4 linked regions of the Homo sapiens genome follow. The protein of the gene in region 3 interacts with the protein of the main gene of each other region in a biochemical or structural test. Each region holds a gene or a part of one and is shown on either strand. Other genes may lie near its edges.

Region 1 (7,029 bases), about 110 Mb from region 3:
ACAGGCGTTGAGCCACTGCACCCGGCCAAGAGAGGTTGATTCTAAGACCTGCAGGCATCTCCCACTCTCCATCTGACTTTGAATTCCTGCCTAGTCTGCCGAGCAGGTCTGACCTTTGAAGCGCCCCGTCGCTGTCTTCCAGAGCAGGCAGCCATCGTGGATGAGTTTGCGCCTCAGAAGTTCCTCTCGGCCAAAGGGGCCCTTGCCAGGCACTGGGGTTTGGGCCCGAGGGTCCATGCGGTTGTAGATCTCCTGCAGACGGGCCCCTTTCTCCAGCTGATAAATACCCTCGTCCACATTGGACAGCAGCTCCTTCACTAGCCCCAGTGCTGTGGTCAGGTCCTGGCGCTCCTCCTCGATCCCTGGCACCGGGGGTTGGCATGGGGAACGGCTCAACCAGTTTCACTCACACCCCAGTTCCCATCGTGTCTTGATTCCACCTTTAGAGGCTGCCCAGGGTTTCACACCCGACCCCACCCTTCCTGTGGTCATACCGAGCCTTTCCTCACCCCAGGTGGCCGTCTCCCAGTGGCCCTCTCCTGGGCCTGCCTACTCACCGTGGGAATGCTGCAGGATGCGGCTGATGAGTAACGGGTACTTGGTGATGCGCTGAGTCACCAGCAGGATGCACTCCTGTACCCCGTGCCGCTTGAGCACGGCGGGGCGGGTCACTTTCTACAAGGGAGGAGGCAGGGCTCAGGGCCAGAGGGGAGGGCAACAGAAAGGCCTGGGGCCTGAGCTCTGGTGCTGGCCCTGGCGTGGCCATTTACCTCATGCTTGCCTAGGTGACATATCTGGAAAATGGGGATAACAACGCCACAGGTTTGTTGTGAGGACCAACTGAAGGAGCAAAAAGTACTTGGGAAACTACCACAACGTGCTCTAGCATTCTGAGGGGTTACTGCTGACAGGATCTGTGTATGGATGGTCTGCACGGGTGGCGAATGCCTGACCTCCATGTGGGTGCAGCTCACAGGCACTACCCCCATGAGTTGGGGAGGGTGGGTTTGGGCCATGAGCATGGGATCTGGAGAGGTCCGCTCACCCGGATGAATTGCTGGAAGCGTTTGTCTCGGGCGTACAGCTCCTTATAGAGCTTTAAGGCCTTGCTGTGGCGGCTGCAGAACTCCGAGTAGGTCTTACACATCTGCTCCGCACTAGGACCTGAGAACTAGAAGTTGGTCGAGTAAGGTTAGGTCAGCATTCCCCCAAAGCCACACTTTACCCACTGGACACACCTCTGGCCTCCTGCCAAACAGGCTGGCTTCCTGTTTCTCCAGCTCTCCCTGGCTCCCCTCCAACCCCTAGAATTTGGACCCAAGAAATGCCCAACCCAGTCACACCTCCTTCCATGAATGTCACCCAGGGGTCCTGCCTTTTCCCACCTGGCTGATGAGCAGATCACCCAAGCGATGGATGACAAAGTTCCGGGTGCTGCCAGGGCACAGGGCCTGGCGTCGGCGTTCTAATAGCTGGCTGAGGAAGCGTGTATGGATGTCACTGAGCTCGTCCACGCAGGGGAACAGGCCCTGGACCACTCCTGGCTCCAAGTGTAGCTCTTCCAGCATCCCCGTGCGGAAGAGGCGGGTCATGATCTTCAGTGTCCTCACATGGTGCAGCTCTGTCTGGATTAGCTCTGTGGGGGACATTGGGACATTTGGCCTCTACCCTGGCTTGGCTAAAACTCGTGGGGCCCTAGGATAAGGACCTCACAGTTCACGTGAGGTTTTCAAGGTCCATTCCAGGTTAATATTCTGCATTATTATGATCTTAGATACTTTTCTAATCATTTTTATCTTTTTTTTTTTTTTTTTTTGAGACAGAGTCTCACTGTATTGCCCAGGCTGGAGTGCAATGGCGCGATCTCAGCTCACTGCAACCTCCACCTCCTAGGTTCGAGCAGTTGTCCTGCCTCAGCCTCCTGAGTAGCTGGGATTACAGGCACGCACCACCAGGCCCGGCTAATTTTTGTATTTTTAGTAGAGATGGGGTTTCTTCATATTGGTCAGGCTGGTCTCGAAATCCTGACCTCGTGATCTCCCCACCTCGGCCTCCCAAAGTGCTGGGATTACAGGCATGAGCCACCACACCCGGCCCTCATTTTTATCTTTCAAAAATTTTATTATTATTTTTTTTTTTCCAGAAATGAGGTCTTACTCTGGTGCCCAGGCTGGAGTGTAGTGGCACAATGATAACTCACTGCAGCCTCGAACTTCTGGGCTCAAGCGATCCTCCTGTCTCAGCCTCCCAAGTAGCTGGGACTATAGGCACATGCCACCACACCTGACTAGTTTTTTAAAATATTTTTTAAAGACGGCTGGGCACGGTGGCTCACGCCTATAATCCCAGCACTTTGGGAGGCCGAGGCGGGTGCATCACCTGAGGTCAGGTGTTCGAGACCAGCTTGGCCAACATGATGAAACCCTGTCTCTACTAAAAATGCAAAAATTAGCCGGGTGTAGTTGTAGGCGCCTGTAATCCCAGCTACTTGGGAGGCTGAGGCAGGAGAATTGCTTGAACCTGGGAGGCGGAGGTTGCAGTGAGCCGAGATAGCGCCAGTGCACTCCAGCATGGGCGACAGAGCAAGACTCTGCTTCAAAAAAAAAAAAAAAAAAAAAAAATATATATATATATATATATATATATATATACATATATATATATATATATTTTTTTTTTAGAGACAGAGGTCTTGCTTTGTTGCCTAGGTTGGTCTCAAAATCCTGGCGTCAAGTGATCCTCCCACCTCGGCCTCCCAAATCGCTGAGATTATAGGCATGAGCCACCACGCCCAGTTCCATTTTTTATCTTTACACCTTATCATCTCAAGCTGTGAGCTATTTTAGGGTAAGAACCATATGTCTTCTACATGTCGAGGCTTCCCACAGTCTCCAGCACGGTGTTAAGCGTGGAACAAGCACAGAGTAAAGACTGAAGACAGAGATAAAGAAGGGATAAAGAGAGGGTGTTGGAGACCAACAGCATCAAGAGGTAGGGACCTAGTGGGCAACCTGTGGGATACCAGGCAGGGTCTTGTAGGCCAAGAGGGAAAGGGTTTTGAGAGGTAGGGGCTGGTAGAAAGAAGGACACAGCCGGGTACGGTGGCTCACGCCTGTAATCCCAGCACTTTGGGAGGCTGAGGCGGGCAGATCACCTGAGGTCAGGAGTTTGAAACCAGCCTGGCTAACATGGTGAAACCCCGTCTCTACTAAAAATGCAAAACTTAGCCAGCATGGTGGCAGGCGCCTGTAATGAGAATCGCTTGAACCTGGGAGGTGGAGGCTGCAGTGAGCCGAGATCATGCCACTGCACTTCAGCCTGGTTGAGAGAGTGAGACTCCATCTCAAAAAAAAAAAAAAAAAGAAAAAGAAAAATAAAGAAGGAAGTAGATAAACAGGACCTGGTGAAGGAAGAGGAAGACTAGGGTGGTCTTGGCTTACCATAGATGACATCTTGCTGCTTCATCACCTCCTTTTTATGCTGCTGCAGGAAGCTGCTGTCCACAGCAAGACTCCAAGAGTCAGCTGCAAAGTCCTTCTCATCCATCTCAAAGTCACTCATCAGCTCACTGTAGATTACCTCTGCTGGACATTAGCAGGGCAAGCAACTCAGAGGTCTTGAGTTCCCTTCCCTGGGTCCCTGGCCCTTCTCTAGATCCCTTCCCTCCTTGTCCTTCCAGGCTACTCCCACCAGCCTCTCATCCCCCAGCCCCTCTTCATGTTCCTCAGGGCTCCCCTGGGCCCAGGCCTGCTCACCTTCGTCAATGAGGGATTCCACGGATAGGGTTCGGTTCCGCATGTTGAGGGAGTCTGTGGACTGTGAGAGGATCCGGCGCAGCCCCAGGGGAGACTCATCATTGAAATGTCTGAAGAAAGTGGAGGCTGTCTGCATCACCCCCAGTCGGGCAAAAGATCCCTTCCCAGGTAGGGAACCAAAGCCAGGATCCAAGAGGCGGTCCCCCTAAGTTCTCCTTATTTGTCTGTCTACAGTTCTGAACTCAGGGATGGAAAGGGACCTCTCAGCACCCCCTTGGCCTCCACTGCCACACTCTCTGGCTGCCCCTTTCCCCAAACAGAGGCTCACCCAGCAATGTTGGTGGTAGAAACACTCTTGGCTAAAGACAAGGAGGAGCGGCCACGGCGGGAGCCCAGGAGGGACTGCCGGAAGCTGTCGGAGGGGTAGATGGCCGAGCTTGGCCGCTCCCGGATGGTTGCTGTGGGGGAGAGATGCCCAGCAGGCAAACATCAGACTCTGGTGCTTCCCAGGATTGAGGCCTCCTAGGCTCCTCAATGAGGAATGAGGCATCCTCTCACTCCACCTCAGCCCCTCTAGTCAAGAAAGATGGTAATGAGAATGCCACCTTACATTTGTGCCATACTCTAATGTTCACAAAGAGCTTTTTCTTACTTATCTCCTCCCTGACATAAGCCTATAAACAAACAGGAGCTCAGAAAGACAAAAAGACTTGTCCAGGGTGACTTGGGTAATGGCTAGGCAGGGACTGAGGCTCTGCTCTTTATACCTAAGGGCCATGCTCTTTCTGTTACACCAAAGCTGTCTGAATTGACACTTGACAGCTGCTACCAACACTCCCGAAATGCAGTGTAAATAACTGATAAAAATGCAGGCTGCGGCCAGGCTCAGGCGACCACCCATCCCCAGCCCTCATCCCCATTCGGACTCTCTCTCCCCTTCTGCCTCTAAGTCCAAGAGTCCGAACCCTCCCTTAGGCCCCCACTATCTGCTTCCAATCAAGAAGAGGAAGGTGCTATGCCTGGGAACAACCTTAGTGGGGCAGCAGAGCCCATGGGTTGAGCAGCCTGGGGTCCAGGGTCTTAGGGGACCTCCTCCACTCCCCAACTACTCACTCTTACTTCGAAGAGAAACGGACTGCAAGGCGGTGTTGTTCTTCAGCAGGGCCGCTTTCTGTTGCTGTGAGACAGAGAGCAGGAGAGAGATACCAAGAATGGCTGTCACCCAAGGATCACCCCCAGAGGCATGGGACAGGAGCTAGGTGGCCGGCCCCCTTAGGAGAAAGCTGGCACTATGGTTAAGGGGATCAGGGTGATTGAGCCCAGTGCTGTGGGGACATGTCTGCAGCAACAGGCCTGGCCTACTTGGGGCCCGAGGCCTGGGGTTGAGGGTCTGGGCTGCCCCTTGGTGAGGAGGTGGGTGGTGAGAAACACAGGGTAGGGAATGAATGGAAAAGGCATGAGGGTACCGCACACTCACTACCCTCTCCCCCAGCCCTCTGCCCTCCCTGCCGTCTCACCTTCTGCTTGACCTTGGTACAGTTGGCGAGGGTGTCTTTACAGCGGTTGTGGATAGTCACATTGCAGGCTGGGAGGGTGGGGTAGAGAGGGTGAAGGGAGGGCCGGGTGGTACAGGAGGGGACACACCCACATGCAGACACCCATCTCCTCCTGGCCACACAGTCCTCGGGGACTCTCCCCCCTTCCCCGACTTCTGGGCCATTACCACACCCCAGTCCCTCTCCTCCCACCTCCCTCTTCCTTCAAGCAGGAAATGAAGTGAGGGGGGTATAGGTGCTGAATGAAATTAAACAATCAAGTGGGATGGGCAATCCTGACCCCAAGGTGGCCTGAAGGGCGGACCAGAGGGGAGCAGGGGTCACTGGCTGCCAGAGATGAGCTCAAGAAGCACGAAGGTGGTTGCGAATGGCAGATGGAAGAGAGGACTCCCACAGAACAGAAGATGGCACAGAGGCAGCCAGAATGGGGGCTAGGGGCAGAGGGGAAATTTACATTCCCTGAGCTTTTATAATAGTAAATGTTCCACATTTACTTAATCCTAACCACCCGTAGAGGGAGGTTCAGTTATCCTCATTTCATGTATGAGGAACCTGTCCTGGAGTGGCTAAATCGTCCATCAGAGGTCACACGGCTAGTGGGAGAGGTGGTGTTTACACTCCGGTGGGCCTGAATCCAAAGGCCGTGCTCCTTCCCTCGCACCACATGCCCTGGACTCTGGCTGGGCCTCAGCAGCTCCAAGGCTGATTGATGGCTCCAGTGGTAAAGAAGGGACAGGCAACTCCCCACCAAGCCTGGCCTTCTCCCTTCCAGGCCCAGGGAGTCCTGTTCCCCCAACTCAGGCAAATCCACAGCTCCCACACTCCATCTGCTTCTCCGCCATCCTCCACCCCACCTTGCCATGGGGTAGGAGAGAAGAAGAAAGGAGGATTCGCTGAGCCTAGGCACTGGGACCCTGGCCGTGCCCTTCCCAGACATGCCCTCAGCTCCCGGCCCTCTCCAGCTTCCCCTCCCCCATCCAACAACACCGGAAACTCTGCTAACTCTTTCAGACAATACCCAGCACCACGCTCACTTCCACAAATACAAGGCAAACAGGGTGGAGCAGAGGGGGCAGACAGAAGTGGGGGTTGCAGCTGCCCCCACCCCCCTGGAGCTCCCTTCTCCTACCCCCAACACTCAGTGTCTCTGGATTGAACCTCCGCTTTCCACCTGCTCTCAAAATAGTGCTGCCCGCCTCCCCTGTTCCCCTGGCAACAAGCTTCCGGATTGGGAATTTTGTCAGGTCTCTATAGGGATCTAGATTGGGGTTCCCTCCTCATCCTCACAACTCTAAATTGAACAGTGAGGAAAGTAGGGAGGCTTCACTGGTTTTCTTTTCTTTCTTTTTTTTTTTTTTTTTGAGCGGTAGCAAGCTTTATTGTGAAGAGCAAAATGACAAAGCTCCCACAGCGTAGAAGGGGACCCGAGCGGGTTGCCCATCACTGGTCCTTTCTGGGGGTTCCTTCCCCAAGTTTCATAGGGATTTACAGGCTAGAGCTTTTGTCCGCTATTCAGTAGCAGGTCACAATACCTTCAATCCTGCTCTAATCAGAGGCATCTCTGCCATAACTTCAGGAGGAATTGAGGGAGAGGGGGCAGCAGGAGCCCTCTGTGTACTGGGGAAGGAAAGAATTCCTGGCTTATACTCCCTAAAGACAGGACTACACTCAGATGTGGATGAAGGGCAGGAATTCTAACCCCTGCCCCTCAACACACA
Region 2 (7,155 bases), on a different chromosome or scaffold from region 3:
TCGGTTAAGCTGGGCCCTGCCTTCCCCGCCCCGCCCCCATTGGCCTCGGTGGGTGGGGGCCTCGGCTGCGCCGGCCGCCTGTGCGGCTGTACTGCAGTCTCTGAGCCCAGGAAGTCACACCCGTCTCGGCTGGGAGCCGAAGCGCCAACCCACGTGGCGGCTGGCTAACCCAGCCGCTGCGGGGAGCGCCCGTTGCGGGTCCTCCCTTGGCGCGAGGTGAGCGAGTGGGGGCGGGCCCCAGACCCAGCCCCTTTGGGCGGGGCTGGACCACCTCCGCTTGTCTAGTTCTTTCCCACCCTTCCATCCCGGCACGCCTCTGCAGTCACATTTGTTGCCGCTGGGAAAGGGAAAAGAGTATCCTAAAACGAGTCTCGAAATTCAGACCCAAACCCCGAAACGAACCCTTCCGGTCCGTTCCTGGCTGTTTGAATGCCATCTGCCCCATCTCCGTTCCTTTCTCCTTTTCCTCCCCTCCACGGTCCTCTTTCCTTCCACTTCCCTTCCTTCCCTTTCTTTTTTCCTCCCACTGCCCGCCTTCTCTCCACTTTCCCGTCCGACGCCCGCCCTGAAGTTGAGGAAGTTTAAGTTTTGGATTAGGAGCCCTTCTTTTGCAATATCCTGGGGCGGGGCCCTAGCGTTGGGTTCAAGTGGTCATGGGTTTTGAGAGCACGGTATGTGTATTATCTTTCTTAAAGACGCCCAGGGTGGCGCGTCTAGACCTCCGAAACCTGGCTCCACCCTGGCCATGTGCGTTCGTCCACTAAGCGGCGAACTGGACCCAGGGCGCCGCGTGCGTTCCAGCCGACTCGCGAGAAGGCATCTCTGCACTTTGCACAGACCAAGACCTTTTTTCAGGGTCCTCCAAACTCCTAGATGTACGCCGCAGATTGTGGAGTGCAAAATGAATGACTTAAGGGAAAACTAGGGCCTTCCATCCTTGAACACAAGGTTGTGAAAGATGCTCGCTTGGTCTGGGGGGCTTGTTTTTCTCCGCCTGTGCGGGACTTCTCCATCAGGGGGCGCCCACACCCGCCGCAAAACTCCCAATTCCTAGACATCTAGGTTCTGCAAGTCTTGTGAGCTGAACTGGGGGCAGATCCGAAGGAGCGCACCGCCTCCCTCGCTCCTCCCTCCCTGCTGCCTTGGAGCACGGGAAAGGCAGGGATTTCACACTAGCCATTCATTTGTCAGCTGTGGGGGAGGGGACGCAGAAGCTAGAGAGAGAGAACAGAGGCTGGGAGAGGGGAAGGGAGGCAGAGAAGATGGAGACAGAGGGAGACACAAAGATGAGGAACGCGACCCAGAGAGACTCTGCCGCGGGTGTGCGCGCGGCAGGACAACTCTCCAGGCGCCGTGTAGATTTCTCCCCCTTCCCGCAGCATCTCCCAGGGACATGCAGGACTTGCCGAGACGCAGTTGGATTGGAGAGCAAATAGTTTAGGCTATGACACTATTTTTCTACCCCGCTCTCCTCTGCCTAACACCCAGACCGCTCCACGCCCAGTGACACAGACCGCGGGCCAGAACAACCCGGATGCCCTAGGTCTGCACGCACCAGGGATGTCGCCCTACAGCGCCCACGCCTCTGCAGGACGGTGGGGCGCTCCAGCCGAGGACGTCCCCCGGGGCTCCCGGCACACGCGCGCGCCGCTGCCGCTAGACCTGCCAGTAAAGTTGCTCAACTAGAGCGGAGAACTAGGAGAGGGTGGGGAATATGTAAGGAAACGGAGGACTCCTGTAGTCTGGGCGAGAGGACTGACCCAGAGGCCCCTGATTCGGGTCCCCGAGCCACCTTTGTCTGCAGTGCGCTCTGGGTGCCGGTTTGCTTGTTGAGATGGGAGCGACAGACCCTATTTCACTCTTCAGGGTGAGAAAAATTGTTGCACATCCCTGCCGATTCAGAACAGGCTTTTCCCGCCCAGGGGCCTCCCAGACCTCCGCGGGGCTCCAACAACCCCACCCCCCATCCTCTGCTCCTTCCCTGCTGGCCCCTTCGCACCGCGTGCAGGACAAAAGAACCCAGGGGCGCCGGGAGAGAACCGTGACAGTCCCCAAGTCGTCAAAGAGACACGGCGGGGATCCTGCACCTCCCCCGGCCGGACCTCCTCCCAGACTGCCTGCGGTCTGAAGGGGTCAGGTCCGCGCAAGGTCCCAGGCTGCTTGGGCGCCGGGTCGCACTGTCAGGAGCTGCCCGGGAGTGGCTTTCCAGGAACACCAGGCACTGACCACACACCAGGGGCTGGGAAACCAGGTGGCCTGCACCAAGGCGGCTTCGGGGACTTGTCTGTGGCAAGTCTTGGTAGTCCCCATTCAAACTTTTGCCTCGAGCGTGTTAAGAACAACAACAACAAAAAAATCAAAGTGCCAAAGGTCCCTCTCTTCTCTCCAGCTCAAGAACCCACCACTTTTCTATGATTTCTTTACAATTTATTCCCTCCCTTCCCCCAATTCCGTTAGTCATTTTACCCCCCACCCCACCCTGGGTTTCTTTTGTCTGAATCTTTTTCAACACCAAGGTCCCTCTGTATGCCTCTCCCCAAAAGCCCTTATGAAAGTTACCTGCATTTTTTAAGTGCCTACATTTTCTTAACTTCGCCTTACAGCTCTTTGCCTTAATTAAAGCCTTCTACCAATTGCTTCTTTTTTCTAAGCTCGCGGGTTTTTTTCTATAAGTTTTTTGTTTTTGTTTTTTAAGGGGGGAACAAAAGAAACGTGATTACCTTGGAAGGCGGCTTATTGCAGTTTGGGGGGAAAATTCACTGCAGCGCTGCGCGACTGGGTTCGGCGTTGCCCAGGCGGGTCACATAGGAAGCGTGGTGGCCCGGGGAAGGATGCGGAGGGTGCGGGACGGTGCTGGAAGATGCGGGAGGATGCGGGGCTGGCCGAAGATCTTGGTCCCAGCTCCTGTCCACAACACCTAATGTTCTCGGCTGTTGCGTCCGCACGCCTGGAGTTCTTCCCCAGAAAGGCTCGGGGCAGCTCGCCTGCAAGTTCAAATGCGGGTTGTGACACCCATCATCATTATATCACTGTACCGTCAGAGCCGAGGAGGAGACTCAGCGAGAAGAAGGAGGAGGGAGAGGAGGAGGGTTCATTCACAGGCTCCAAAAGCGCTCCGCAGCTTCAGCCACTCCTAAGAGTCCAGGCTTGGAAAGCAGGCGGAGGGGCGGAAAGGCAGCTCCCCGCGCCTGCGGTAGGGACCGCCTGCCTCCCTCCCCAGGCACTCCCACCTCTTGGCGTTTCTTCCTGACAAGAAGTACCAATCGGCTTGGGGACAGCAGCGCTCCCCATTCAGGGACTCACTCAGTAACATCGCTCTGCTCGCGGAAACCACTGCCCTCCCACTCCTTCCCCACCCCCATTTCCCCGCCCCCCGTGCAGCTAGTTCTGGGTTAGGGGAAAGGAGCCCCCAGGCTCTTAGGGGGCAGGCCAGCAATAGACAATTGAGTACGATCACTTCTTCTCGGGAGCACACAAAACTGTAAAATCAGCAAAGAACTTGGTTACAGCGTGTTTACGCGCCCACAGAGCTTGCCTGTCCCATCAAAGGGAAGTGTCAGGCTCAAGGCTCCTGCCAACCTGAAAGAGACACTGAGAAAACGAGATCCTTCGGGGACCTAGAGGGAAAGTGTAAGAATTCCCCACTGCACTCCCAGGGAACTGCCCAATGGGGAGCCCGGCTTCAAAAGACCCTGGTAATAAAAGGCTGGACAGGAAATTCCCCCAGGCAAATCCCTTGTCGGATTCAAAGAGAATACTTTTCCTCTGCCACAAATCTCTCCCCACATAAGTCTAGATTCTGCTTTCTTCGTTCTTCCTTTCCTTCAGTCTTTCCAAGTATCTCTGAGTAGAATATTTGATAATTTTCCTGAGTAACAGGGACTTCTTGGAAGTATCAATCACCTTTCATGCTTTCCGGAAATAAGACCATAATCTTTCATGCGTATATGCGATTTTTTTTCTTCAGTCAGGCCCACCCCACTGTGTAAACAGCATCAACACATGGAAGAGTCCCCTGCATTGTGTTACAAAAGATTTCCAATAGGACCTTACAGAGAAAAGGGTCAAACAGTTGACACAAAGGATTTCTGTCCCCTTAGAAAAGAGGGACTTTGGATTTTCCTTTTCTTTGAAGTCAAGTATGAGTTTATACAATAGGAACAAAATAAATCCAAGGTGCACATCAGTATAACACTAGGGATACTAGAATGGATGGCAAACTTTTCCTTCTACACAAATATGAAAGTATCCTCACAACTCTTCTCTCTGAAGCCTCTACTTAGAAAATTATATTAAACATAGGACCTCAAAACAGTAGTGATTAAAGATGAAAGCCAATTTTTCCTCTCAACTTCTTTGATTAGTTTGGTTTAAACTTATGCTTTAAAACTTTTAGTAACTTAGACTCCTGTACATGCGCATTTATAAGATTTCTTTTATATTTTGTAATTTGTAGGCATTCAGCATGGTCATTGATTTTAAGTGATAAACAGGTAGAAGACTTGTCAGGATAATTTCAGTTCTCACCATGTGCATCTTTCATTTCTTTTGTTATTTATCAGCCCTCTGCAGTAATATAACTGTCAGTTACATCATTTGGAAATCAATGTGTTTTTGCAGTGAATTATTTATTCTTAGTAAATTTATTGTACTACCATTCCAAACACTGAAATTTGATTTCATCAGATGTTTAGAATGATAGTCACAGAGCAGAATCAGACTTCAACCTTCATGTATAACATGTAAACAAACTAAGGTGCAGAAAGTTACTGTCCCAAAGTCACACAATTAATAGTCCAGTGGTCTTTTCAGTGCTAATCATAGCAACTTTAGATTCAAGATTGCTTGATTCAGGAATGGAGAGAAATAAAATAAAATGAATGTTCATTGAAATATATACTCCAGACATTAAGATAGACCTTTCTGTGAAACACTTCAAGATGTGGATTTGTATTCTCATTCTTAAATTTGAGTAAATCTAGTTGAGTTTCAAAGAGTTCAAGTAACCTGCCCAAGGCCATTTTGTAAGTGACAGATCTGCCAGTCTGAAAAGCTTATTATCTTTTACCCTTTTGTCCCTTTATGATACAGTTAAGTAAAACCTTTCAACAAAGGAGAACTAGATCAGAAACAAGCAACTAATAGCAGATTAATGCCCATTTTTAGGGAAATGTTAATAGTTAACATTCACTATAAATAATGCCATCTGTATATAATGGAACATGATTGAAAGTGATGGGTTAGATACTTTTTACATTCTGAGATGTTTTCATTTATGTTGCCAAATTTGATTCTCTAATCCTCCAAAATTTTTAGTTTCTTTTAATGCCAATAGACTTCACAACACTTGACCAAATACTTCTACAGGACAAAGGCACTTTCTCAGGGCTGACTTAAGGAATTAGAATATGCACAATGTTGAAAAGCTTTAAACTGCCTGTCTTTTCTCTTCTTTGACTTGTAACATTATTATTCAGAAAATTAAATACTTCTTCAGGCTATCAGATAACTAAAATGAAATTATACCCCATGGATATCTTCTTTCTATCTCTAGGGCAGACTTTCCCCTCTAGCTGTCTAAAATGGAGAATGGATAAAAAAGAAAAAGGAAAACATACCAGCTATATTTAGAATAGAGTCTACAGTTGTATTATTATTTCTATGTAACTGTTTTTAATGACTTTCCTTCATCAAGAGAAAGAAAATGAGAGAGCATTTATTTCTGATTCTCCAATGCCTGACAAAACTATCAGAAGTTTTTGAATGGGAAAATATATATTTTTCAGGTTTTATAACTAAAATTGTATTTATTTGTCCATTACACTCAAGTATGAATCAAACAGTAATTAAAATATTATTCTGTGAGTCCCCCTTTAAATCACATCCTTGTACTGGGGATATTCTTTGTGAAAACTCCAAGATCCCAGGTATAAATAAAGCAAGATCTTCATTCACAATGCTTGTGTCTAAAAGAAACCATAAGCCAGAAGCTATGTGCCTTGCTTCCTTGCTTTGATCTTGTCTTTGGGAATTTGGCTGAGCTCAGGGGCAGCAAGCCAATGACTTGGAGAGGAAAGGTGTAGATGGCAGATGTGTCTCCAGGGAATTTTATTATCTTCATCTAAACCTCCTTCTGAGGTTCTTTAGGATTACATTTCAGACTTCTCCTTTTTTATTGATCAGGTGAAGTGTTCTTAGACATGGCATCATCTATTGCTGCTCTAGGGATGACAAGATTCCAGTCCCATTCAAATTCAGAAAGAGCTTAGTTTCAACTCCTTGATCTGACTGGTCCTAGGCACAACTAAGCAAATTATCCTCACTGGATGATACAGTAATGCTACAGATTAAAAATGTACTTTTAACTTTCAAAGACCCTGGAAAAAGGAAGCCTATCCTCTAAGATTGTGTCATAATTTTTTTTTTAAATAAAACACTGCAAATTAGGGACAGACATTTCATCCAGCACTTTGAATTCTCTTTGGCTTTCTAGGAAAGGCAGAAATACAAGGTCTTTATTGCCTTCTTTTTATTCTTAAAAAAGAAATCTTGCAAAAGGCAAAGTGATGGTGGCAATCTCATTGTGCTTTAACCCGAAGTATATAAATTGCTCTGATAAATTAAACACAGACAAATTTCCTTAGAAAGCCATAAAACATTAGATTTTTCCCAGACATCAGATATTGAGTTTTTGCTCTCCAACCCCCAAATCAAAATGTTACAGTAAAATATTTGTTTTAATAAATTTTTTTTTCTCCTGTGCTGTAAATGTCCTGTTCATGGTTGAGCAGATTTCTCTAGAACTTAACTGAAAGACCATCTACATCACGACAGAACTATGCAAGCCAAAGCCAAGTTCCAACATGGAGTGATGGGAGAGGCCGGGCTGCCGAGAGGAGATGACTTCATTAGTGAGAAGAGAGGCTCTCTGAGCCGGTCCTCAAGGCAGCCAAATGGCTCAGCACATCTGCACTCACCCTGGGAGGCTGCCTGGAGCAGAGCATCAAAAACGCTATCTTTTTTATAAAGAAAAAGATGAAGGCATAAAGAACACAGTCCAACTAAATTGAATCAAAGATTGTATCACTCTTACTCCCTCCTTAGTCACTTTCTCAAAGTCTTTTTCTTCTCTCCCCACAGTCTGAAAAATATAGG
Region 3 (7,788 bases):
AAGGAAGAAAGGCAGCCGGGGCCGAAAGCGCCTACCCCGGGGTCTGGCACACAGTCAGCAATCAATGACAGGTAACTGAATTGCTTTTGCAATCCCATGGTGCAACCTGCTCCCCCAAGGACCACGAGCTTCTCGAGGGTAGGGCCCTGACTGCAAGCTGGAACCAAGCACACAGCAGTGTCAGTCACAAGGGAAGTGACTGCCACTGCTGACGATGCACTGCCACACAGTTCCCTTGGATTCTTACAACAGCCCTGGGACCCAGTCCGGGTTGGATTAGCTACCCCATTTTACAGGGAGTGAAATTGAGACTCAGGGAGAAAGGGGCCTCTTTGAGGCCTGAAGCTGGAAAGTGGAGGAGCCGTGGTGTGTATCACAACCCCTCTACTGCAGGAGGTCTGGGTCCCCTCCTCCCCGCCCCCAGGGAGGACCCTCAAAGCTAGACTCCCATAGTTCAGGCTGATGGAAAAAAGGGTGGACTGTGCCCAAACTGCCAGGGCTAGTATTTTGCTGCGTATCCATACACTTCCCAGTAAAAGATGTGTAGCTAGTTTCCGTTTGCTGCAGTCTAACTCTGCCCCGCCAAATTCCTTCACCAACACCCAACCACCCCCTCCTCTCTTGGCAGCCTTGTACACCAAGCCAACCCGCCCAGGGCACACAAAGCTGGATAAAGGGGAGGTATCAGTAGTTGCAAGAAGAAGGAAGAAAGGGAGGAAGGAAGGAAGGAATTATGTTAAAACAATTTTCTTGTTAAAGGAAAGAAAGAGGGAAGAGGAAGAGCAGCTGGAAAAGGAAACTATAAAGGAAACTAAAAAAAACACTATAAAGACATTTCAAATAAGAGACTGAGCAAGTAAAATGTGCAAGAAAGTGCATATACAAAAATACACAAGGATGACTGTGCATGTGCACAGGTATGCTGCGAGAGTGTGCAGGCACAGATTTCTTGAGCCCTGGCCGGCATGCGGGCCCAGGTATGCGAGAGGGGGCAAGAAAGCAGCTGAATAGGGAGTGTGTGTGGGGGTGGAGGGGGTGAGCTGAGTGTGGAAATGAAGGCAAGAGGGTACGAGAAAGTGTGGCCTGTGCCTGGGGCTGAGAATGTAGGGGGTTGTACTTGGGGAGTTACACCTGCTCCTTCTTGAAGCCCTAGGCTCATTCATATAATCAGTAAAAAAACAGGGATTTTCATGCTCCCTGAAGCAAGAGTTAATAAGGAGCTAAGCACAGAAATTTCCTTAGATAGCCTGTCAGAACTCTCTTCTGGATCCCTCAGATCCCCGAAGCCTCCCAAAGGATTCCCCACCAGATCTTCCCTTCTCAGCAGATTCCTCCCCATGAGCACCCGCCTGGAACCACCACCCCACATCCTTTTCTACGCCTCTCACCCCAGTGCACTTCCCTGCTTCTCAGGCCAGATCCGACACCAGATCGCTCTGGATCCCTGCCCCTGTTCCTTCAAAAGTGGAGCCTTCCTCAACCTAATCCAGCCTCCCGGCCCTGCCCTGTGGCCCCTCAGGGAGATCCAGACAACCCCCAGGCTGGGGCAGCCTCCCTCTCCCATTTCACAGCTCAGGCAGGTAGCGCTCCCCACCCCCAACCTGCTCCAACTCAGGGGCCGTGCACTGGGGGGCAGGGGGGCTTGAAATGGGGAGAAAGTCTAGCCCCTCCCCCTCCGGGGTGGAAGAACCAGAGGGGCAGCATTCCAGGGAAATGGGGGGGCGCCTAGCACAGAGAGTGCAGAGACACCAAGAGATGGGTGAGAGACAAGAGGCAGAGACTTAAGGAGGGAGACAGAGACCCAGGGAGAGGAAATAGAGAGACCCAAGCGGAGAGAACAGACTCAGGGACAGGGAACAAGACGACCCAGGGAGACAGAATCGAGAGACCTGGGGAGAAAGAACAGAGTGACCTGGGGAAAAAGAATGGAGACAGCTGGAGAGACCCTGGGATTGCAGGGGCGTGAGATTGGGAGGCACTGACACGGGGAGGCAGAGACGCCGAGGAAAACAGAAAGCAGCCGAGACAGAGACGCCGGCACGGCGATGGGGAGCCGGGACGGGACGGGACGGGACGCGGGGCGGCCACTGAGTGAACTTTCGGAGAGGGTCCGAGTGGCCACGTCCTCACGGGACAGGTCGCTCCAGGGCCTCCAGGGCGTTGCACCCGGTTGGGGGCGGGTACAGCCCGTTCGGCCCCTCCCCATCCCGTGCTCGCGAACGAAGGGGGTGGGGGGGCTTCAAACTCGCGCCCGGCGCAGCCCGGGACCGCACGTGCGCCGGGGCCGCGAGCGAGACCCGGGCGCGCCGGCTGCGGATCCCCCGCCGGCTGGGAGGGGGCGCCTGTGCGGCGGGGGCGGGGGCGCGGCCTGGACCCGCCCGGAGCCCGGGGCTGGGGGGTCTGAGGGCCGCCCCCGGAGCGCGTCCGCGCTAGAAGGGGGGACGAGGCGGGACCGATGAGGGGGAGCAAGAACGCAAACGGGAAACTTTGCGCTGGGTGGGGGGGGCGGGCTGCGGCTAAGGTGCGGTGGAGAGGGAGGGAGGCGGCGAGGGGCGGCGGGGAGCGAGCCAGCCAGCAGCGCTGGGGGCGCGTCTGCCGCGGGGTGAGCGGGGAGGAGCCGCCAGGCTGGGGCGTGGAGGGGGGGCTTCGCCGAGGCTGCGGGCGCGGCAGGTGGGGGCGCGGCCCGGCCTCAGCGGCGCCCTCGTCCCCCCCGGGACCGCCCCCAGCTCCGCCGGGTGGACTAGCGGGGAGGGCAAGGAGAGCGGGGAAGGGACGGGAGCGGAGGGGGCTGGTGGGGGGCCGGGGGGTCACTCACCGCCTATCCAGGGGCCGTCGGTCCGCATGTCCCCCCGCAAGCCGCTAGGGCCGCTGCTCCCACTCCTCTGCCGCCGCCGCCTCCACCTGGTCCCGCTCCCGCCACCGCCACCCGAGCTGGAGCCGGAGCCGGAGCCGGAGCCGGAGCCCGAGCCCGAGCCGGAGCCGAAGCTGGAGCCGCCGCCTCTGCCGCCGCCACCGCTCCCGCCGCTCCCGCGCCAGCTCCAGCCGCGCGCTCCCCTCGCGCTCGCGCCCGCGCCCCTGCCCCTGCCGTGCGCGCCCCCGGCGGCGCCCCTCCCCTCGTGCACTCTCGCTCGTAGAGCCGCGGAGCCGCTGAGGCCCAGACAGGCCACAACCCAACGCCAAGTCGAAACCGACCGGAACCTCAATATTGAACCCGAACCCCAATAATGAACATAGACAGACCAAACTCTGATACTACATCCAGATCCTTCTAGTGGCTCCCAGCCCTAGCATGAACCTAATACCACTCTAGGACCCCATTTCCTCCCCATACAGATCTGAACCTGATACTGAGCCCACACCTTGCCCTAAACCCAATATTGAGTCCAAAGCCCTTAATCTGCCCCCAAATTAGCACAAGTAGTAATTTTGTTGTGAACCTCTATACTGATCCCAAATACCAATTCTGACTCTAAATCTCTTTATTACTTCTACTTGCCCTAACCTTGATAGTGACGCTAGCACCAACGCTGGACCTTAAATGGAACCCTGTACTAATGCTCAGCCCCCAGTCCCTAAATGAACCCTAAAGTCCAAAAGCTACCTTGCTATGGACCCCAGTTATCTCTCTTCTGAACCCCAAGCCTTACATAAAACTCCAGTACTGCTCTCCCATTCCCAGATCAACACCAATGCACTCTGAATTCGATTCTCAATTCCAGAGTTGGGATTGGGTCACCATAAAAGGACCCCCAAACACAGATACTGACCTGAAACCCCACCCAAACTTGAGACCATTTAGGACCCTAAACCAACCCAGCTTTAATAATAATCTTGGAACCCAAGATAAGACTGGCTTTGCAGAAACTCCACACAAAGCCCCTTCATCCTCATGTTCACCCTCCACTTCTCTGACCTAGTGTCAACCCCAAGCAGAGACTGACTAATACCCCAATATTATACCAATTCCAGCTGTGAACCTTACATTGGCCTCGGAATTAAAGACATGATAATGCCCTCTAAATGTAATTTAAATGTCAGTACTGAGTTTCTGACTTCTCATACCAAACTCAAATAATGACCCTAGAAATTTCTGGGTGAAACCAATAACCTACCTGAAGATTTATTCCAAGACCTACTGATCAGAGGGATTTGATGAGCTTCAATCCAAGCGCCCCTGCCTCCAGACCCCGCCCCCACGCAATCCGTGTTAAAACCACTTAAGAGTCAGCCAAAGCCACACCAGCTCTTTCCTATCTACCCCACCCCTCCTCCCCCCGCCGCTTGCTAGGCTTCACCATGAAGGATGGGGGACCTACCCCCACTGCCCTGGGTCAGGTAACTGAGCAGAAAAAGAGATGAGGTTTCTCCTCTGTGGGGTTTCTTCTGTGGGGTCTTTCTGATAACCCTGTAAGTTTGGAGTCAGGTGAGAAATAAAATTTGGAGATCGTTGAGGTGCCTGGATTCAGGGATCACGTGGTAATGTGCAGGGCATGGTTGCTGTGGTGTTCAGGGATCTGGGCTGAGGAATCAGGTTCTGGTAACCACCTGATTCACTGCCTGTTTTTGTCCTGAACTTGAATTCACAAACAGTGCGTGTGCGCCCCCTGGCGTATGAGGAGGGGATGGGACTGGCTCCAGTGATTCTGGACAATTTGGTTTGGATGACAAACGGATCAAAAATGAATATTTCCAGTGAGTGGTTTTTCACCATTGGTAATTTTGGTGCACCACGGGGGAGGTATTGCAAATTTTATGCATCTTTAAGCATTTTTGCCTTTTTTTCCAGAACTTTGAGGATTTAGAGATTCCCTCTCGGCCCCCAAATTTTAAAAGTATACTTTTCAGCCAATTATTCCTGCCCATTGCTGAGTTATTAAAACAGTTCTTTTCCTTGGCTTCATTGGCCCACCCTCTCCTCACTGGCTACTGTCTCTGATTCCTTTACCACCTCGTCTTCTGCTCTTCCGGGACTCTGTCCTAGGCCTCCTCTTTTCTCCTGCTCTGCCCCTTTTCTCTGGATCATCTTGACCACTACCAACCATATGCTGATGACTTCCAAGTCTCTATCTCCAGTCTGGGCCGCTCCTGTGAGCTCCAGATCCATATAACTAAGAGCCTCCTCTGTCCCGCCCACCCCAGATCTGCTTACCTTCAATACTGCCCGTCTCAGGCAGTGGCATCTTCAGCAATTTAATCACTGACATGCAGAGACCTTCCCTCCTGCACCACTGTCCAATCAGTCATCAGTCCTGCAAATTTTGAAAAACAGAGACTAGAGACCATATGGCTCCATGAGGGACACATGCAGAGAGTTTCTGGCTTTTGGGTTTCAGTCCACACACGCACAAAGCCAAACTGGTCCTAACTTCTCTTGCATGCAGTTATAATATAATGCCCCTTAAGACTTGCTCTACTGGCCAGGCATGGTGGCTTACGCCTACAATCCCAGCACTTTGGGGGGCTGAGGCGGGCAGATCACCCGAGGTCAGGAGTTCGAGACCAGCCTGGCCAACATGGTGAAACCCCATCTCTACTAAAAGAAAAAAAAAATACAAAAATTAGCCAGGTGTGCACCTGTAATTCCAGCTACTTGGGAGGCTGGGGCAGGAGAATTGCTTGAACCTGGAAGGCAGAGGTTGCAGTGGAGATTGCTCCACTGCACTCCAGCCTGGGCCACAGAGCAAGACTCTGTTTTAAAAAATAAAATAAAATAAAAGACTTGCTCTACCTTTAGTGTGTTTTGGCACCTCAGAGCCAACTGTACCTGTTTGGAACCATTGTTTCCTCCAGGAAGCCATCCTGGCTGTCACCACTGTTTGTATCTGTGCCTATCTCCCTGACCTGTGGACAGCAGTTCCTTGCAGGCAGGAGAAATGAGTCCACCTTGTTCCCTGTCATATCCCAGTGGCCAGCACAGGGTCCTCACACACAATAGATACTTGATACATATTTGTTAAAGAATGAAGATTGACTTTCCTATCTGTGCTCAAGGAACCATCAGACATAAATGACTAAGTGAGGGAACAGCTCCCTGACCAAGTCTTAGAGCTCATCCAGCCCCAGTCTTCTGTAGCCCTGGCATGCACTAGAAGAGGGGCTCGTGGTGTTCGCTAGCCTGTGTGCCTGCTAGCCTGGGCCTTGGTAGTCCTGAAGCTCTGGCAGCCCTGTTCCCTCTGCCCCGCATTGTCAAGGCTACTGAGCACAGTACTGGAAGGTAGGTGAGCTGGGACCCCTGGCTTCCTGTGGTTGAAGTTAGCAGATGTGCTCACTGCTGTGCCAACCAGTCTCTTGCTCCAAACCCCACAGGGACACAGGGGTCTCAGAATCCTAACCCATTGGCGTCTGCCCTCTCATTCACCCACATGTGGCAAAGTGTTTGTCGAGGCAGGGCAAGAGAATGCCTGTAAGCAGCCTGCCCAGATCTCTGCATGTACGCCATCTGGAACTAGATACAAACCCAAGGTAATGAAACTAGAGGCCTAGGTGCCAAAGCCACATGGATGAGAAGCTCAGGTGGCCGGGCCTGGGAGAGCGTGATAGCTGCTGAAGGAGAAGAGCCAAGGCTCTGTCCAGTTTGCCAAACTGTGAGCACGGGGTCCACGTGGGGCTGCCCTGCTGCCCTGCTCCTGGGCCTGGCGGGGAGGGATGTCCTTGTGCTCATCTGTGAAGGCCGAGTGGCACCATGTGGTCATTGTGTGTCTGCTGTGTTCCAGCCCCAGGGTGCAGGGTGAGGAGAGAGCCAGATGTCAGCTCCCACTCACTGCTCACCCTTTGTCCAGGTCCTGGGCCAACTGGACACTCTCTGCAACTCATGACGTAAATACACCTTTTGGTCATCCCTTAGTTGGTCTAAACCAAATTAAATTCAGCTTGAGTCTCTACCCATCAGATCAGCAAGATTTCCCTATCACTCATGGCTGCCCTTCAGCTCCCTCCGATCATCCATGAACTCCAGGGGTTTGCACAATCCCAGAGATGGTCAGTCCGTGCTCCACAGCCTTGCAGAGAAAGGTGGAAGGATTTTTCAGGCTGCTGCTGCTGCTGTTGCAGACATCAGTGGTCACAGTCACAGGGCTTCCACTATTTTTTGCCCATCTGCAGGGCCTCACTTGTCCAACCTGGTCCTTGGGAAGATAACCCTCTACTCCCTCCATCCCAGCTCTTTCAAGAGGACCTCTCCCACAGGCCCCCGCAGTTGCAGCCCTTAGTCCTTGGCTTTCGAATCGCATGCAGCCACTTTCTTCTGGGGGCAGGTCAGGGTGGGATGGAGAATGCCTGTTCCCCTGCCCCTCTCTTCCATGCCAAAGCATCAATTCCCCAAGACACAGTGGTATTCTCCCTCTTAGCTCAGACACAAGAACTACAAAACGGCCTATTTACTTTCTCAGGTATGAGGTGGGAGAAAAAAGGCCCAGGACTTAGAACACAAAAGCTTGACTAATGCTTTTTTAATTAAAAAAAAAAAATTTTTTTTGTAGGGACAAAATCTCATCATGTTGCCCAGGCTGATCTCGAACTCCTGGGCTCAGGAGATCCTCCAGCCTCAGCCTCCCAAAGCGCTGGGATTACAGCAGCCATGAGCTGCAGTGCCTGGCCCTGGCTAATGCCTTTCATTTCTTCCGGCTGAGTCACTATGGGCAGGGAGAAATGATACAGGAGTTAATTTCTCAATGAACACTGCTTATGTTTCCCGGAGAAAACAGAAGCCACCACAGGAGGACTCCCTCATCTCCCACTACCAAATCCGCAAACCCACACACCTCTCCTCCTTCCGCTCTGTCTCCCCTG
Region 4 (7,029 bases), on a different chromosome or scaffold from region 3:
TGAAGTTTCAGAATGCATTGTGGTAAGCGCCAATCAAGTGATGCTTCTAACTCTAAGTAAGGGCTGAAAGCATGAATATACCATTGTACTACAGGAGAGAAAAAAAATGCTTTTGATGTGCTAGCAAAAGGAGACTTTTGTAAACAAGTGGAGCACAACTTAAATGTGTTCATCATTGTCAAATCATCAGGGCTGCCACGTACAGAAAGCACATTCCTTCGTAAGCTGAGAAGAAATCACCTGCTCCCAATAAAAATATTATGAATAGACAGAAAATAAACATCTAAAATGCAGACGTTTAAATAACAACAACAACAACAACAACAAAACCCAGTGCATTTTGTAACTCCTTATTCCCCTAGTGGCAAGGAATGGCCAGATCACTAATGTGTTTGTGAAAGACTGAAAGGAAACATAAACCCCAATTCTTCTGGCTGTTTGGCGTCTTTGTAAACTCTGAGCCAGCCGGCTATACACAAGAGCCTGGGAATGGAGGGGGAAGCTGGGCCTTTGTTGGGGCCGGTGCCATGGTGTTGTGTGTTGCGCAGCTGAAGAATGCAACTGAAGAGCATTCTGCCTGCACTCTGCAGCCCGGGAGCCAAAGCTGCCTCTAACCCCTGGAGGAAGTCATGATTGGCTATCAATTGGCTCTTCTGTAACAGCAGCCAGCCCTGATAAGAAGCCTCAAGAGAAAGCCAAAGATGATTGGTTTGGAGTTTGGGTTTTCTTCTGGCTGATACGAGCCACGGAGGCCCTTGTTTGCGGGATATCTGACTGGCTCCTGCCTCCTGCCAGGACCTGGCTGGTGTCCCCGCCAGCAATCCCAATACTAAATTCCCACTGGCAGCAACATGCGACATTAATAGGGTTGGCCCTGAGTCAAATGAGTGTTAACACAGCTACAGTATGTGATGGAGAACAAGTTGCATAGCATAATTTATGATTCTCCAGAAACTGACTTTTGTTGGTGGGGGCAAGGGAGGTATTTGGTTTATATTTCCAAGTGAAGGTTTCATATAAACCAGCGTCTTATAAAACCAAGTTCTAAGGTGTTTTAACTATTTGGATCCATCCTGATAAAAGGCTGACAAGACTTCAACATTTACTAAAGGGTCTCAATTCATGGCCAGTTGCAGATGCAGTTAAGAGAGGAGAGGAAGAGCATGGCAACAAGAAGACGGATTTGGAAAACCAGTTCATCCTTAGTCTCTTAAAGGGTCTAGTCCAACTGCATTATTTCAGTGCTCAAGACACTGGCACTGAGTTTCCCCCCATACCCCCAGCAACAAAGCATCCCCTTCTCACTAGGGAAAGCGATTCCTTTTGCATTGTGCTGCCAATAATCAGAAACCCACATCTTCAGCCTCCCGACCTGACTGGAAGAACAAAAGGCAGTTTCCCGACTTAACCCCAAGATCTGATTTAAAGAAGGGGGAAAAAGCCCTTGACCATTCATTAGCTGCAGTCATTTAAAGGGGAAAGAAAAATTCCTTGCAAACAGAAAAAAAAAAAAAGAGAGAGAGACAAGAAATAAAAAAAGAATTTACAGCAGAGGCATGTAAATTGGGACTGAATTCTACAACCACAAAGCAGATTAATTAAACCCTTGTGAAAAATTCATGAAAAAGCACTGGAGATTAACAATGTCTATTACTCCTGGTCTTTTATATCTGCTTATTAGAAATAAAGAATAGTATACCCATTAAAAACAAAGTTTAGATACAATTATATACCTCATCCCTCCAAAAAGTTATCACTTAAAATAACTAGGGAAAAATCGATTCAGAAATCCTATCAACTTCTACTTGGGTTTGTTTCTTCAAAGATAACAAATGTAATTTTAAAAATGCCCAACAAGAACAACAACAGCAACTTAAGTCCTCTTTGTTTTCGAGTAACTGATTTAAAACATCAATAAAGAAAGCCAGAGTGTGGTTTTGATTTGATATGGACCTGTAAACTCCAGGAAAAACACGTAGGAGCATTTGTATTTTAATATAAGGATATGAGTTTAGTTATAGTTGCTGCTAGACATGTTAGAGTATCAAAATAGTGGCAAGGGCCATGCCCTTCTGCATTCCATTCCCAATGTGTCTGTAGAAAAGTCAGCAGAATTCGATCACTGTCACCATACACTTTTTTGTACCATATGGCAAATTCTACTACCTTGCCTGGAGAAACAGTGAATTATAGGGGCAATTGAAAAGGATCACCAACTTTCTTTAAAAATTCAATTTTGCAAAAGTGAACTGCAAACTTGACATTTGGGTGTGGGGATGAGTGTGGGATTAAAGAGAGAGAGAGAAAACAAAAACAGCGACTTTAGATCTGGAAATTCTATGGGTTTTTACTTCCATGAGAAATATTTTGAATCAACAATTTCTCCCATGGCTTCATTCTGGGCATGATGTGCCATTTGGCCTGTATGTCTTTGCTGGTCTTATGCCTTCCCTTTCATGAGATTCTGCTTTTCTGTGTGTAGAAGATTTTTTCAGGTCTTCTAGCTTTGAGCTATTTAGGCTACAATTGTGCTGAAGTGCTTAATATTCACATCTTTTTTTATCCCCCTGTGTCAGTGTTCTTAAGAATCTGTTGGAGCCAATTTATTGATGCACTTTCAAACGGAGTTAATATGGTAATTAGCTCTCACACAGACTAAAAAGCATTCCCCAACATTAACACCCCTCACCTCCCCCCAAAAAACCAAGCCAGAATACTGCATACATGTTCCCATGATTTGGACAAATAAGTGAAAAACAGGTGCTTATAAAGACACTCAAATTCGGCAATTATGCAAAGGTGACTAGGGTGGGGAAAAATGTGAGTTTCTTTTTGTGAGCTGTTAGTATGTGTGTGCGGTCCTACTAATACTCAGCATAAGGAACTTCAACACTGGTTACTGTTGCTTCAGGCATCAAGGTAATTGACAACTGGACATTTAAATTCTCCTTAATTTGTCCTTTCCCCAAAATCATAACTAACCCTCTCTGCAATTGGCCACTTCATTTACATTGCTGTCTGGGTTCTGAGAATGGTTTTCTAGGTGGAATATATATGCAGGAATATGTATCCCTTAAATTCTCAGGGCTAAAGTCCTTCCACTCTCACCAGAGCAGACTACTACTGCTAAATGGTGTACAGAAACAGAATCCCTGAATTTCTCAATCAGATTTCACCTGATCCAAATAACAAATGCGTATCTGGCCGGTTTGCAGAAGATTTAGTTGCAGTGTAATAGATATAACATTTTAAAAGCCACTTTTACAACTCCATGAGGACTGTACTCCAGCATTTACATGGATACAAGCCTATAATCATAAACACAACTGACTTTCAGGCGGGAAATATCAAAAAGACACTTTCTCAGTGAGTGGCTCATGCCTATAATCCCAGGGCTTTTGGGGGGCTGAGGGTGAGAGGATCGCTTGAACCCAGGAGTTTCAGGTTACACAGAGCTATGATTGTGCTGCTATACTCCAGCCTAGGTGACAGAAAGAGACTCTGTCTCCAAGAAAAAGGCATTTTCTCATTATTAAAACCTGGCAGCCACTGTATCTATTACCTTCAGAAATGCCACCATTAGTTTGAGGGAACATTCACTTGCAGTAATGTTTTTACTATTCTCAAAGTAGTTGAGCGTAGTCAGGATTCTGACAAACACTAAATAGCAAACACTTAAACAAACAAATTTCATAGCTGCCAATTACAACATTCCTTGTGACTGGAAGCTAAGCTATCTCCAGCAACACAAATATGTTAACCACTTGCTCACCTATGAAATTGTTCCATTCAAAATCGAGATCCCCTTGGTTGGCCAAACAGCCTCTCATGATGTTTGAGCAGTAGTTGTAACATGGCTTCACAGTCACGAGACCCCGGCAGTGGGAGCAGTAGATCATCTTCAACAGGGCATGGGTACACTGGGCTGTGGGGTTTACCTAATGTGTGAAAAGAAAAAAAGACAGTAGTGGCGGGGCTAAAATAGAGACAGAAATTGCTTCTATCACATTGACACTGAAGGCTTGGCCATGAACTTAAGAATGAGTTGTGATTGATCACAATTAGTAAGCCTGGACTGCCTCCTGAAGACATAGATTAGATAAAAGATACATGTTGGGACAGGGGAGAGGAGGGAGATGACCCAAAACAAACAAGGTGCACCAACTCCCACCCTGTAAACACCCATTCCTCCCCCACCCCCTTCCCTCCTGGAGTCTCTCTCTCACACACACATAAATTGCTCAATTATCTCAAAATCCTTTTACAAATAACTATGCAGGGTGAGCCATGAGATGCAGTGGAGGAGACTATCTTCATGTGCCCACCATGCACGTCCTGCTAATAGCCTCAACCATCAGTGTTTGTCTTTGCCAGACTGGAACAGAAGCACATCTTCTTCTGCATTACATTGACTACAAGGCTGTCCTTTGAACCCTAACCCCAAATTAAGGTTTAGAAGGGTACCTACGGTGTCTTCTGTTCTGTGCCAAGAGCTGTGCAGAAGGCAAAGTTAATATATTCTACAAGGCAGAATATGAGTAATCTTAAACTTAGGGGGTGTGTGAAGGTTTTCCAAGGCTTGGGAGTACTAAAGCACAGAGTGTTCACAGAACACTTGATGAAAGAGGTGGGGCTTTGGTTAAATTTTCGAGAAAGGGGCTGGACTTAAGTGGTCAAACAAAGGGAGAGCATCCTGAGTTAAGTTCAATGAAATGAACAAAACCTGTAGGAGAGTACAGGACATGTCACTGCATCTCAGAATGGGGTTGGGGAATTGCGGGAAATAAGGTCAGGTGCACAGGAGTATGCGTGTGGCCAGAATTTAGAGGGGCTTAAACATCAGGCAGAAACTGGGATACCAGTTGCCAGGCACGGTGGCTCACGCCTGTAATCTCAGCATTTTGGGAGGCCGAAGTGGGCGGATCACAAGGTCAGGAGTTCGAGACCAGCCTTGCCAGCATGGTGAAACCCCGTTTCTACTAAAAATACAAAAATTAGCCGGGCATGGTGGTGTGTGCCTGTAGTCCCAGCTACTCAGGAGGCTGAGGCAGAAGAATTGCTTGAACCTGGGAGACGGAGGTTGCAGCGAGCCGAGATCTCACCACTACACTCCAGCCTGTGTGACAGAGTGAGACTCTGTCTCAAAAGAAAGAAAGAAAGGAAGAAAGGAAGAAGGAAAGGAAAGGAAAGGAAGAAAGAAAAAGAAAGAAAGGAAGAAAGGAGAAACAAACAAACAGGGACACCATATGGCAGGACACATGGGGCTATGACTGGAAGTTTGTGAGGAAGGAAAGGAAGAAAGACAGAAACATTACCCAAGTCAGATTGGGCTGGCTGTCCTCTCCAGAGAAATGGGACTTCATTTCATCTAGTTTTATAAAGTGAAATTATTTGGGGTGTAGAAGAGCTGATTCCATCCGGTCACTTGTTTTCCTCAATGCTTAGAAAGGATTGGGGCTAGGTATAGCATTCTAGCAGCTAATTAAAAGTTCCTGTCTCCTCTTTCTCTCTGCCCCACCCTCCTCTTTTGGAGTCAGTATCAGAGGATTAGTGCATTCTTCTGTGTAAGTACCCACCAGTTCTGCTAACACAGACTTTTGGAGGCAGATACCACCACAGGGAAGAGATGCTGGGATGCAGGGCAGCCCGGCAATGCACTTCACCTGCTCTGGAGTGTTACTTTGGATATCACTTATCAGCAGTGCCCTTAGGAACAGGAACAGGGGATTAGTGGTGTCAGGAGAAAAAAAACAGTCAGGCTCCTACGTGATGCATGTGCACATCCATTCCCCTCATCCCAAACAAGGCTCTAGCCTAAAAGGGGGGAATACGTGTAACAATAAAATGGTAATTGTATACACTGCCCTACCAAGAATTAAGATTTTTCCACAGTTTTAACCATTCCCAAATGTTTTCCTAGGCACTAAATTAGTCCTAACTATGTATTAATGTACAGTAAAATTTTGGCTAACCAATATACCCTGGAGGAATGGCCTTTTCTGGATAGCCAGATTTGCTGGACAGCTGAAAGTTCATTCCTTTAAAGTCACAGATTGTTAAGACTTCCCTACATGTCCCCCTCTCCTTTTGTAAAGGAGCAAACAGGACTGGAGGGGGGAGGTGGCCTGAGAAGCATAGGATCACAGAAGTCTTAGAGTTGGAAGGGACCAGAGAGATCACTGAGTGTTGCTCTCACATTTGATAGATAAGAAAAACCAAGCCAAAGCCAAAGAGATTAAGCAACTTGCTGACAGTCACCTCACAACATCGGATTCCAGTACTATACCTTATCAAGCATTTGTGATGAAAAGATTTCCCAGATGTATCACGTTTCCCTGCCAGATGACAGGAAACTGTAATCTTAGGCACTGGTTATTTCCTACTTTAGTTTTAGTTGGGTTCCACATTGATGAGACTGCAAAATGGCTAGATTTTAAAGAGGTAAAAGTTATGCAAGTGGCTATGAAATGAAAAATCACTGAATAGCACGTGGCATTTGTTGAATATTATGCTTAAGAGGAGACAATGCCCTCGTAAGAAGAAACGTAGAAAGCTAAGGGGTCAACAAATAGTTACTGAGCACCTACTATGTGCCAGGGATTATTCTGGAATGCATTTGAATTTAGGTAACAAGGCAAGTTAAGAATTTCTATATTAGAATACAAAACCTGTTCTACAAAATACAAAGCAATTCCAATGTGGTACAGGACTTTAGGAAATGAGCAAAAATTTTAGACCCAAAATAGTTATATTCAGAAAACACTTCTTTTTTCAAAGAAGTCCTTTCTCATTCTTTTAAAAAATAACTCTAGGAAGTGGTTCATTGTATTCTTAGTTCAATTGCAAGTCAAATCATTTATGCAACAGACCTTGTAGTACCCTCCCCTAAAATAGGCTGATGGAGGCTCAAGTTTTAAAAAGAGACCAAACTAAATGACACAGTAGAGTTTTATTAAGGGAAATTATGATGCTGAGTTTGGCAGAGTTCTTCCATTTCATTATTTGGCTAAGTGCTGGCTCATGCTCTGT

The links.
Region 1: the proteins of PTPRF (region 3) and ARHGEF2 form a complex in vitro, tested with the Homo sapiens proteins (one study listed by BioGRID).
Region 2: the proteins of PTPRF (region 3) and VCAN form a complex in vitro, tested with the Homo sapiens proteins (one study listed by BioGRID).
Region 4: the proteins of PTPRF (region 3) and GPC4 form a complex in vitro, tested with the Homo sapiens proteins (one study listed by BioGRID).

What each region holds. Positions count from the first base shown.
Region 1 is NC_000001.11:155,961,548-155,968,576, forward strand, and holds part of ARHGEF2 (rho guanine nucleotide exchange factor 2), read right to left. Parts: intron 5,341-7,029; coding exon 5,273-5,340; intron 4,933-5,272; coding exon 4,869-4,932; intron 4,214-4,868; coding exon 4,084-4,213; intron 3,866-4,083; coding exon 3,756-3,865; intron 3,585-3,755; coding exon 3,441-3,584; intron 1,637-3,440; coding exon 1,386-1,636; intron 1,172-1,385; coding exon 1,046-1,171; intron 676-1,045; coding exon 558-675; intron 363-557; coding exon 114-362; intron 1-113. UniProt on the Homo sapiens protein: Activates Rho-GTPases by promoting the exchange of GDP for GTP.
Region 2 is NC_000005.10:83,467,589-83,474,743, reverse strand, and holds the start of VCAN (versican core protein isoform 1 precursor), read right to left. Parts: upstream 3,001-7,155; 5' UTR 2,721-3,000; intron 1-2,720. UniProt on the Homo sapiens protein: May play a role in intercellular signaling and in connecting cells with the extracellular matrix. May take part in the regulation of cell motility, growth and differentiation. Binds hyaluronic acid.
Region 3 is NC_000001.11:43,526,118-43,533,905, reverse strand, and holds the start of PTPRF (receptor-type tyrosine-protein phosphatase F isoform 1 precursor), read right to left. Parts: upstream 3,024-7,788; 5' UTR 2,816-3,023; intron 1-2,815. UniProt on the Homo sapiens protein: Possible cell adhesion receptor. It possesses an intrinsic protein tyrosine phosphatase activity (PTPase) and dephosphorylates EPHA2 regulating its activity.
Region 4 is NC_000023.11:133,307,486-133,314,514, forward strand, and holds part of GPC4 (glypican-4 precursor), read right to left. Parts: intron 3,939-7,029; coding exon 3,773-3,938; intron 1-3,772. UniProt on the Homo sapiens protein: Cell surface proteoglycan that bears heparan sulfate. May be involved in the development of kidney tubules and of the central nervous system.